2 separate regions of the Homo sapiens genome follow, and region 2 is linked to region 1. Evidence: fine-mapped expression QTL. A gene starts in region 1. The other region holds a variant in brackets. All regions are shown on one strand. Distances are between the middles of the regions. Region 1 holds the start of PER3 (period circadian regulator 3). Region 2 overlaps PER3 (period circadian regulator 3).

What was found. PIP is the estimated chance that this variant, and not a neighbour inherited with it, causes the effect. A credible set is the group of variants that fine-mapping cannot tell apart.
Region 2: its variant is the best candidate, but not a certain one, in a credible set for the expression of PER3 in whole blood (INTERVAL, PIP 0.61).

Annotation. Positions count from the first base shown.
Region 1 is chr1:7,782,372-7,787,736 of GRCh38, reverse strand. It overlaps PER3 (period circadian regulator 3), which reads right to left and starts at 3,446. Exons shown (of 22, transcript NM_001377275.1): 1 at 3,361-3,446; 2 at 2,732-3,083; 3 at 2,151-2,296; 4 at 901-1,016. The coding sequence starts at 2,859. RefSeq lists a silencer at 3,371-3,980.
Region 2 is chr1:7,830,389-7,835,764 of GRCh38, reverse strand. It overlaps PER3 (period circadian regulator 3), which reads right to left. Exons shown (of 22, transcript NM_001377275.1): 20 at 1-3. Among named protein-coding and RNA genes, the nearest start is that of UTS2, 20 kb to the left of the region's middle. The variant AT/T (reference allele first, on the strand shown) is at 3,046.

The sequences.
Region 1 (5,365 bases):
GTGTTCTCGTCATCAACGCAGATTCTATGCTTTAAGACACACTGAAGATTCACCTTCTTCAAGAAGCTGTCCTTGACAAACCTCATTACATAAGCATCACTGCTCTAATTTTTTCCATTACACATAAATGAAACTTATTTATAATCAGCAGTTTGTGTTTGCTAGCATTGGCATACTTTCCTCTCTAGCTTTATTTTAAATATCTTAAAAGACAAATATTTTCTTAAGCTATTTTTAAAAATCTCCATAGCACCTCCTACAGTACTATGTACACACCAGTCCATAAAATAAGCACTGTTATAATACTAGGGATTGCGCACGTTCCACTATTACAAAATCTTTAAGTAACAATTATGTTACTTAAAATAAGTAATCTCCACCGTATCAACCAAACATGAAGATTACTCTGTCAAACAAGAAGAGAGATTAAAAAAGATATACTAAAGGTCTCTTCCAAAATTTTAGGAAAAATGACAGCATCTCAACTCACCTGTTCTATAACATCCAGTTGTTACAACTTGAAGTAGTAGGTATTGGAACTAAGAATGATATAAATAGAAATTAACAATTCGGAGATTAGAATAAGGTGCAGGAAATTACTCTGCAGTGTAATTTTTGTTTTCTCTTAATTCAAGAGAGCTTGGGAATGCTAAGGAGCTAGAAGCACCTCATAACCAAAGTCACTGAGCTGCACAGCACACAGAACGGGCTGCTTCTGCTTTTAGATGTTTTCTCTGGCAAGGGCGGAGAAGCTACACCATGCCTCTTTAGCAGTTCCTCCTTTGCTTCTCTCAAATTGTGGTTGCTGAAACGTTGTTATCCTTCTTAAAAGCCTACATCTAGAGCAGGCCCTTAGGAAAAGTCACCCAGGTTGATATGGCAAAATGCATGAATTCTTACTGTGTTTTTGGAAGTGTGTTCTGAAGCGATAGTGGCCAGCTCCTCAAGACTGTACATGCTCACATCTGCCTGAGGTGCTCCATTCTGACTGAGAATCTGGAAAAACTCACTGTTTGCTAAGAAACACAGGGAGATAAACAGGTAGTCCAGTGACAACAGTATCTTTAGGAAACCATTTCATCACTATCAAGCTGGATTATTTTTTTCGGATGAGAACACCTCAGTGCATTTTTCTCAAAAACAGATCATTTTCTGCTTTTACCTAAAATACTGATAGTTGTGCAAACTTAAGATTTGATTTTATGAATTCTGCATGTTCTGGATCACAGGAAGCAAGATACATTTAAGGTACTAACTAAAAATTTCAGATGCATACACAATTTTTTTGCGGGGGGAGCAGAAACAGTACTCTGTCATTCAGGAACATATCATATATGAAGCACTGAGGTTTGTGCTAAAGAGAATATGGCTTTAATGAAATCCCTGGAAATGTCAGAGAGAAAAAGTGTTTACAATGGTTCATTTTTAGTTTGGTAAATTCCTGATATATCATTACTGCATTTTTATCATTATTATTTTTTAGAGACAGAGTCTCGCTCTGTCACCCAGGCGGGAGTGCAGTGGCGTGATCTCGGCTCACTGCAAGCTCCGCCTCCCGGGTTCACGCCGTTCTCCTGTCTCAGCCTCCCGAATAGCTGGACTACAGGCGCCCGCCACCACACCCGGCTAATTTTTTGTATTTTTAGTAGAGACGGGGTTTCACCGTATTAGCCAGGATGGTCTCGATCTCCTGACCTCGTGATCTGCCCGCCTCGGCCTCCCAAAGTGCTGGGATTACAGGCGTGAGGCACCGCGCCCAGCCTCATTACTGCATTTTGAAAGTATGTGTACGGCATGTAAAGGTAACTATTTCGTGGAATGCATTTTTTTCCCATAACTTCCATAGAAGACAATATTTCTTTAAAAGGTCAGCCTTCAAAATGTGCTTATGCTAAACTCTACTCTCTTGCAACACATGAGCAAAACATTGCATAGGTATTATACACTATTATACAGATAAAGTTTTCCTGGTCTTTCACATGTGAACAATTAAGACACGAATGGAATCGGTGTAGATTTGCTCATCTTCCACAAAGCACCAGAAAAAGCTCAAATTATTTGTCTGACTGAGACCCCACTGACCACTCCTCTGGCTGCTTGTATGAGTCCTGGTGCATTCGTAGGATGAAATTTCTCTCCGGCTTGTTTACCTTGAACGCTGTGGACACAGCGGAGAGCATAGTTGAGGGCATCTAGAGTGCTTGGTTTATTGCGTCTCTCCGAGGGGAAGTATTTTTTCATTTCTTGGACAACCATGATAAGTTCTTCAGAAACTCTGTTTCGATCTTGCTGTTCACTGGAAGATAAAAAAAAATTACAACTTCATCCTCTGAAGACAACAGCATCTTGCGGCTTAGGGAACACAAACTGCAAGCCAGGTAAGTTTCTAAGTGCTCTACCGGCATCAGTCCACAGGGTGGTGACCCCTCTTCCTCTAGGTGGGGAACTCGAGGCAAAGCAACTGGTGAATGACAAACATTCTCCACTTACTTTCCCTTAATCCACTTGAGCCCCAACTCAGCTAACTTTTGTAACCACTTTTCCCTCCTGATACTCTTCGGTAATTTTCTTCAGTGTCACGGATCACTTCATCCTACATTGCCCGAGTCTCCCCTTTACACTTTCCCCTGGGCTTGAAAACAAAAGAATAAAAAGATTTAGGTCCCCCTTTCCCTGCTCCAGGGAAGGACAACGAACGCATGGGGCCCTCGGCCTGAAGCCAGCGCGTCACCTGTGGCTGCTGTCCGCCAATTTCCTCTGCAGATGGAACTCGGGGCTCCACCGCTCCCCCGATTCTTCGCCCAGGGCCTCGTCCTTAGCCCCCCGTCTCCCGGGGCCAGGAGCTTCCCCGCGGGGCATCTCGAGGTCTCCGCGGGGCTCCACGTCGTGCTGGGACGGCCCGCAGCCTGCTTCTCGCTCACTTTGCAGTCAGTGACAGACACCGGTTTCTCACTCCGGTCCCCGCCATGGCGTTAGTGAGAACAGGCGGCCACCACGAGCCAGGGGGTCACGCTCATCTCCGAGGAGCTTTTCCCTCCAACATTTTCAAAACCCGGAGCTCGCTCGACTTTCAGGACTCCGGCCTAGGGGGAGGAGACAAGGGTGACAAGGGACAAATGGAACAGACAGTCCGACGCCAGCGGCCCGGCTGGCTGGGGCGCCCCGACCGCGCGGTCCTCACCCCTGCCCCAACTTTCCCGCGCGCCGAGGGATGGGGCCCGGGGAGGCGGGTGGCTCGGAAGCGCCACGCTCCGGGGGCCCCCAGTACCGAGGGCAGGGCTCGCGGGGCTCCTCTGCCGCGCGCGAGTGCCCAGAACTCCCGCCCGGCCGCCCAGAACTCCCGCCCGGCCGCGCACTCACCTGCTGCCCCCGCCCTTGGCCCCGCGCACAGCCGCTCGCCCCCGGGGCCGCCCTCGCGCAGTCTCGAGGCTCGCCGCGTGCCGGTCAGCAGCCGGCGCCGCGCCCCCTGCCGCCGCGTGACCGGTCCCGCCCCCGGGCCGTGCGATTGGTCGTCGGGGCCGACTCCGCAGGCCTCCATTGGCCCTGGGGCGGGGCGCGAGCCGGTGCGCCCGGGTTATATAAGCCAGGGCGAGGGGGCGGGGCCCCCGGGGCGCGTTACATAACGCGCGGGCTCGGGCGGAGGCCGGCGCTCGGCCAATCCCAGCAGGCCGGCGGGCGGGCAGGGGACGGGGTGGCCCTCAGCGGCCTCAGGCCTGTGCCGCGCGACTGGAGTGTCCGGCCCCCTGGCACGGCGCCGGGGCGGAGCCGCTGAAGCCAGCGCAGAAATGATAGGGCCAGGAAGCTGCCAGCCACGTGGGGGCGGGACCCGGGCTCTGTGGGGCGGGGCGGGTCCGGCCCAACCTCCACGTGAGAGGCGGGCGGGGAAGGAGAGGGGAGTGAGAGGCGGGGGCAGAGAGGGGCGAGAGGCGGAGTCGGGGGGCTTGAGTCGGGGTCAGGGGGAGGCTGGAAATGGGGACGGATGGGGGCGAGAGGCGGGGACGGGGGGGCGGATGGGAGCGGGGGTGCCGAGAGACGTGGGGAGCGAGAGGCAGGGGCGGGGGGGCGACGGTGTCGAGGGCGGGGGCATTAGAGGGAGGGAGAGGCGGGGACTGGGGGCGAGCAGGGGCGGCTCAGGCCAGCGCTCTGGGGTCGAGTCCTGGAGTTTGTAGGTGGCTCCCGGCTGCCCGAGCGGGTGTGGGGAGGAGCCCAGGGTGGGGCGGGCTGCCGGCAGCGGTCCTCATCGTGCTTTGGCCGTCTTTCTGGGTTCCCACGGTTTTCACCGCCCGTGACCTACCGAGCCCACCCCAACCGCCCCCATCCTCCGCTAACTCTTTCGGTGAGTGGGGTGGACTTGGAGGAACCGGGCCATAAAGCAGCCCTGGTAAAAAGCCCACCCGATTTTTAGAAACAGATTTTTTATTTTTTGAGACAGGGTTTTGCTCTGTTGTCCAGGCTGGATGGAGTGCAGTGGCGCGATTTTGGCTCACTGCAACCTCCGTCTTCTGGGCTCAAGCCAGTTTCCTGCTTCAGCCTCCCGAGTAGCTGGAACTACAGGTGCAGCCACCACACCTGGCTAATTTTTGTGTTTTTGGTAAAGATGGTCTGTGTTAGCCAGGCTGTTCTCAAACTCCTAAGCCCCAGTGATCTGCTGGCCTCGGTCTCCCAAAATGTTGGGATTACTGGCGTGAGCCACTGCACCGGCCCAGAAACAGAATTTTGACGGTGGAACTTAAAACACTTCCCTGCACTTCCTAAAATTAGATTCATTTGGCAACTGGAGGAAGACAAACGTAAAAGACACTCTGTTTCAGAAAAGAAGTTGTAGAGCCCTTTAAAAAAAATGTCTGAAAGCTCAGTTTAGTATCTCAACATGTTAGAAATGAAAGGTACAGTGCAGAGTGCCGCCCCTCTTCGCTGCCTGGTACAGAAAAAATATTCAGTATTTGTTGGATGGATGAAATTGTATGTAAAGGAAGAGGGGAAAAGTGAGGTGAGTGTTCATGTTAGGTATTGAATAAACCACCTTATATCTTCCAAGCGATACTCTAGGTTGGCTTGCTCTCCTCCGAAGCTGGGTTTTGTCAAACTGCATTCGTTCAGCAAGCATTTATTGCGTGCAGATCTGGGTAGGGACGCTTGGAATCCCAGCGGATAGAACAGTGGCCCAAAGTCCCTGCCACCCAGGGAGTTGACGTTTTATTGAGAAAGCCATACAAACAACCCCATAAACAAGTTCATAAAGCCTAAAGCGATGTGTAGAAAACAAACTACTGGAAGGAAGAGTAACTGGGAGAAAGGTGGAGTGGGGAGGCCAGAGCCTGCTTAGTCAGATCAGCAGGGCAGGCCTCTGGGAAGGCGGATTTCA
Region 2 (5,376 bases), 48 kb before region 1:
TTCCTGTCAAAAATCAACAACACATAATTAGAAAAGACCTGTCCGACTGATTTGCCAAACTGGCTCTCATTCTTCAGACTCTTGCCTCGGACAGTCCTCCTCCTCAGCCAGCCCAACCATCATTTCCGGGAAACTTCCTCCTCCCTGTGGACAGCCTCCTGGTTCTTTGGTCTTCCTGAGATCTCTTTTTCCATTCCTAATGAGCTATCACTCTCAAGGCTACACACATTGTCCTTTATCATCACCCATAACCGCTCCATCTCCAAAATCATCAACATCTCAGCTTCACTCTCTCATGGGCTTGTTCAATTATTTCAACTATAAATGTGTTAATAACGTCTTAGTCTTCCTGTAGTGGAGTCCTCAGTTCATCATTCAGTAACACACCTTGCAATACCTTAGACTTCTTTTTCCCTCTGACTTTTCATAACTGTCAAAATGCCAACTCCAATAAAGCCAATTATTGACTTTGTTCTTACCTAAACCCAAGTCGCCAAATACATACAGAAAGTCACATATAACAGGGTACAGTGTTTCTACAATAAACGCATCATCACCAACCTCAAATGCACCATCAAAATACCTGGGAATCCTGCTACAGTTCTCTGGTCATGCACTAACCTACCCCCAGCAATGACTATTTTCAACCTCTCTATTTCCTGCCTCAATCTCACCTATTTTTTAAGGAAAAAAGAAGCCATCAGAAAGCAAATTAATCACCTTTATGATACCAAACATACACAATTAATGATATATGTACCCCCTCCTCACCTTCCTCCTGCCACAACACAGAAACTGTTCATCCCAAGGACCATCCCTTTATGGCTGATATGAAGCCTTATGGATCATTCCTTTCCTATCTTGCATTTGACCCTTCTAGAACCTTCTCACTGACTTTGAAGGAATTAAAAACACAAAACAAAACTATTTGTTTAATTTTTTTTAAAAAACTAAGTATGTAAATAAAAAAGTAATAAAAAAATTTTCCTCATTAAAAAATATCTTTAGGTTGGGCGTGGTGGCTCACACCTGTAATCCTGGCACTTTGGGAGGCCAAGATGAGAGGACTGCTTGAGGCCAGGAGTTTGAAACCAGCCTGGGCAACACAGTGAGGTAGGTTCCATCTCCATAAAAATAAAAAATTAGCTGAGTGTGGTGGTACATGCCTGTAGTCCTAGCTACTCAGGAGGCTAAGGTTGGAGGATTGCTTGAGCCCAGGAGTTTGAGGCTACAGTGAGCTATGATTGCATCAGTGCACTCTAGCCTGGGTAACAGAGTGACACCTTGTGTCAAAACAACAACAACAACAACAAAACACTCACACAAAACAACTTTAAGAGGTTGTTACTGTTTAAAGCAAAAATAATAACAATGTTATTGTGGGTTTTTTTACACGTTAAAATGTATGACAAAAATAGCACAAAAGACAAAGGGGACATGGAAGTACTCCGTCTTAAGGTTCTAATATATAAAGTGATACAATAGGCATAATATTTGAAGGTAAACTGTGATAAGTAAAAGATGTGCATTGTACAACCTAGAGCAGGCTGGGCGTGGTGGCTCACACCTGTAATGCCAGCACTTTGGGAGGCCAAGGCGGGCGGATCGCCTGAGGTCAGGAGTTTGAGTTCAGTCTGGCTGACATGGTGAAACTCCGTCTATACTAAAAATACAAAAAATTAGGCGTGGTGGTGCACGCCTGTAGTACCAGCTACTTGGGAGGTAGAGGCAGGAGAATTGCTTGAACCTAGGAGGTGGAGGGTGCAGTGAGCCAAGATGGCACCACTGCACTCCAGCCTGGGTGACAGAGTGAGACTCAGTCTCAAAGAAAAAAATAAGATAAAATAAAAATAAATAAAAAGTTAATCCTAGAGCAAAAACAAAAAAAAAGTTATGCTTAGAAGCCAATACACAATTAACCCGAAAGGAGGAGGGTAGGAGGAAAAAAAGAAAGGGCAGATGAGACAAACAGAAAATTAGTAGCAAGATGAAAGATTTAACTTAAACCTAACCATATCAATATTCACATTAAATGTAAATAATCTAAGCAAGCATTGCAGTTAAAAGGCTGAGACTGTCACATGAATAAAAAGCAATACCCAACTATATGGTGGTTACGAGAAACTTACTTTAAATATAAAGACACAGATAAGTTGAAAGTAAAAAGATGAAAAAAATTTACCATGTAAACACTAACCAAATAAAGCTGGACTGGATACACTGATATCAGACAAAGCAGACTTCAAAGCAAGACATATTTCAGGATAAAGAGAGCAATTCATCAAGAGGATATAATAATCTCAAGTGTATATGCACCTAATAAAAGAGCTTCAAAATACATGAAGCAAAAACTCACTGCACTATAAGAAAAAATAGAGAAATTCACATTTATAGCTGGACATATAAACCATATCATAATAACTTATAAAACAGATAGAAAATCAGTTAGAAAAGGTTGGATCAACATTATCAACCAACTTGATCTAATTTACATTTACAGAACACATGACTCAACAACAGCAGAAAGCATATTCTTTTCAAATGCACATGAAACATTTATCATGATGGACCAAATTCCAGATCATTACACAATGTCTTGGTAAATTTAAAAAATACAAAAGAATGTTCTCTGACTGCATTTAAATTAGAAATAAAATAAAAATATCTAAAAAAAATCTCCAAATATTAGGAAATTAAGCCTTTCTAAAACAACCAAAAGATCAAAGAAGAAAATACAAGTGAAATTAGAAATATTTTAGACTGGCCAGGTACACTGGCATATGCCTGCAGTTCCAGCTACTCAGGAAGCTGAGGCCAGAGGATTGTTGAACCCAGAAGTTTGAGGGTGCAGTGAGCTGGGATCATGCCACTGCACTCCAGCCTGGGCAACAGAGTGAGACCTTGGTTCCAAAAAAAAAAAAAAAAAATTTGAGGGATGCAATGGTTAGAGCATTCAATAGCATTAAATGTTTATATTGGGGGGGAAAAATCTCAATTCAAAGATCTAACAAGTAAGCTTCTACCTTAAGAAATAAGAAAAAAAAA[AT/T]AAAATCCAAAGTAAAGAGAAAAGAAGTAATAAAAATTAGAGCATAGGCTGGACACGGTGGATGATGCTTGTAATCCCAGCAATTTGGAAGGCCAAGGCGGGCGAATCATGAGATCAGGAGTTCAAGACCAGCCTGGCCAACATGGTGAAACCCCGTCTCTACTAAAAATACAAAAAATCAACTGGGTGTGGTGGCGGGCACCCGTAATCCCAGCTACTCGGGAGGCTAAGGCAGGAGAATCGCTTGATCCTGGGAGGTGGAGGTTGCAGTAAGCCAATATCGTGCCACTGCACTCCAGCCCAGGTGACAGTGCCAGACTCTGTCCCAGGGAAAAAAAAAAAAAAAAAAAAAGAGCATAAATCAATAAAATAAAAAACCAAAAAACAATAGGAAAAAAAACCCCAATGAGATCCAAAGTTCTTTGAAAAGTTATTAAAATTGATAAACATACAGTCAGATTGATCAGGAAAAATATTAATACCAGCAATAAGAGGGGTACATTACTATAAAACCTACAGACATTAAAAGGAAAAGGGAATATTAAAAACTTTATGCCAATATATTCAACAAATTAGATAAAATAGATACATTTCTTGAAAGATACAAATTACCAAAGATCACTAAGAAACTGATAACCTGATTAGACCCATATATATTAAAATATTTAAATTTGTTGTTAAAATCCTCCTCACCAAGAAAACTCCAGGCCCAGAAAGATTCACTGGTAAAGTCTACCAAACTTACAAAGAAAAAATAATATCAGTTCAACACAAACTCTTCCAGAAAACAGAATAGCAAAGAATAGTTCCTAGCTCATTTTTTGAGGCCAGAATTACTCTGATACCAAAACCAGACAAAGACATTACAAGTAAAGAAAGTAAATGGACCAATATTCTGCACAGAGATGCAATAATGCGTAACAAAATATTAGGAAGATAATCCAACAACATATAAAAAAGGATAAAAGAGCATGACCAAATGCAAGGTTAATTTATTATCAGAAAACTGATGTAATTCACCATATTAATAGAATAAGGGAGGAAAACCACATGATTATCTCAACAGACGCAGAAAGGGCAACTCAGTGGAGCAGCAATAGAAGTGAACTTCCTCAATCTGATAAGGGCATTCAAGGAAAACTTATACTTAACATCGTACTTAATGGTGAAACACTGACTGCTTTCCCCTTAAGACTGTGAACCAGGCAAGTGTCTATTTTCCTATTTCTATTAAACACTTCACTGTGGGTCCTAGCCAGTTCAATGAGGCAAGACAAATAAATAAAGACATACAGACGGAAAAAAAGAAGTAAAATTATATTTGCAGATAATAAAGACTATGTAGAAAAGTCCTGCAGAATCTAAAAAGAGCTACTAAAACTAATCAATGAGTTTAGCAAGACTGCAAAATACAAGTTAAAAATACACAATTTGATTAAATTTCTATATGCTAACAACAAACAATTGCAAATTGAAAATTTAAAATGCCATTTTCAGTAGCATCAACAATTATAAAATCCTTAGAGATAAATTTAGCAAAATATATGTAAGGGTTGTAGGCTGAAAACTATAAAACCCTGCTGAGAAGAATTAAAGACCTACATAGAAAAATCGTACTTGTGGATCAAAACACTCAATATCATCAGGAAGATAATTATTCACGTATTGATCATCTATAGATTCAACACAATTTCATTCCAAACACCACGAGACTTTTTTGTAGAAACTGAGAAATGGAGTCTATAATTTATATGGACAAAGGACCTAGAATATTCAAAATCATTTTGAAAAGAAGAATTAAGTTGAAGGACTTACTTCACCACGCTTCAAGACTTACTTGAAAGTTACATTACTTAAGAGTGTGGTATTGGCCTAAAGCTAGCCATACAGATCAGTGGAACAGAAAAGAGAGTCCAGAAATACACCCACACGTGTATGGTCAAGTTATTTTCAACAAAGGCATCACGGCAATTTAACGGGGGAAAGATTAATCCTTTGAACAAACGGCAGGAACAGTTAGATATCCCAATGTAAAGAAAGTATATTGACCCTTCCTCATACCATACACAAAACTCAAAATGGATCACAGATCTAAGCTATAAATGCTATTGAGCGTGCATCTCAACAGCATCATGCTAACTGAAAGAATCCGAATACGAAAGACAGCATACTGTCTGATTCTATACATAAATCATAGGAAAAGCAAAACTAAAGTGACAGAAAGCAAACCAGTGGCTGCCAGGAGACCAAGGGTCAGGGCAGAGATGGACTGGTGAGGGTCACAGAACTGTTTGGGGTGACAGAAATGTTCTATATGGTGATTGTGGTAG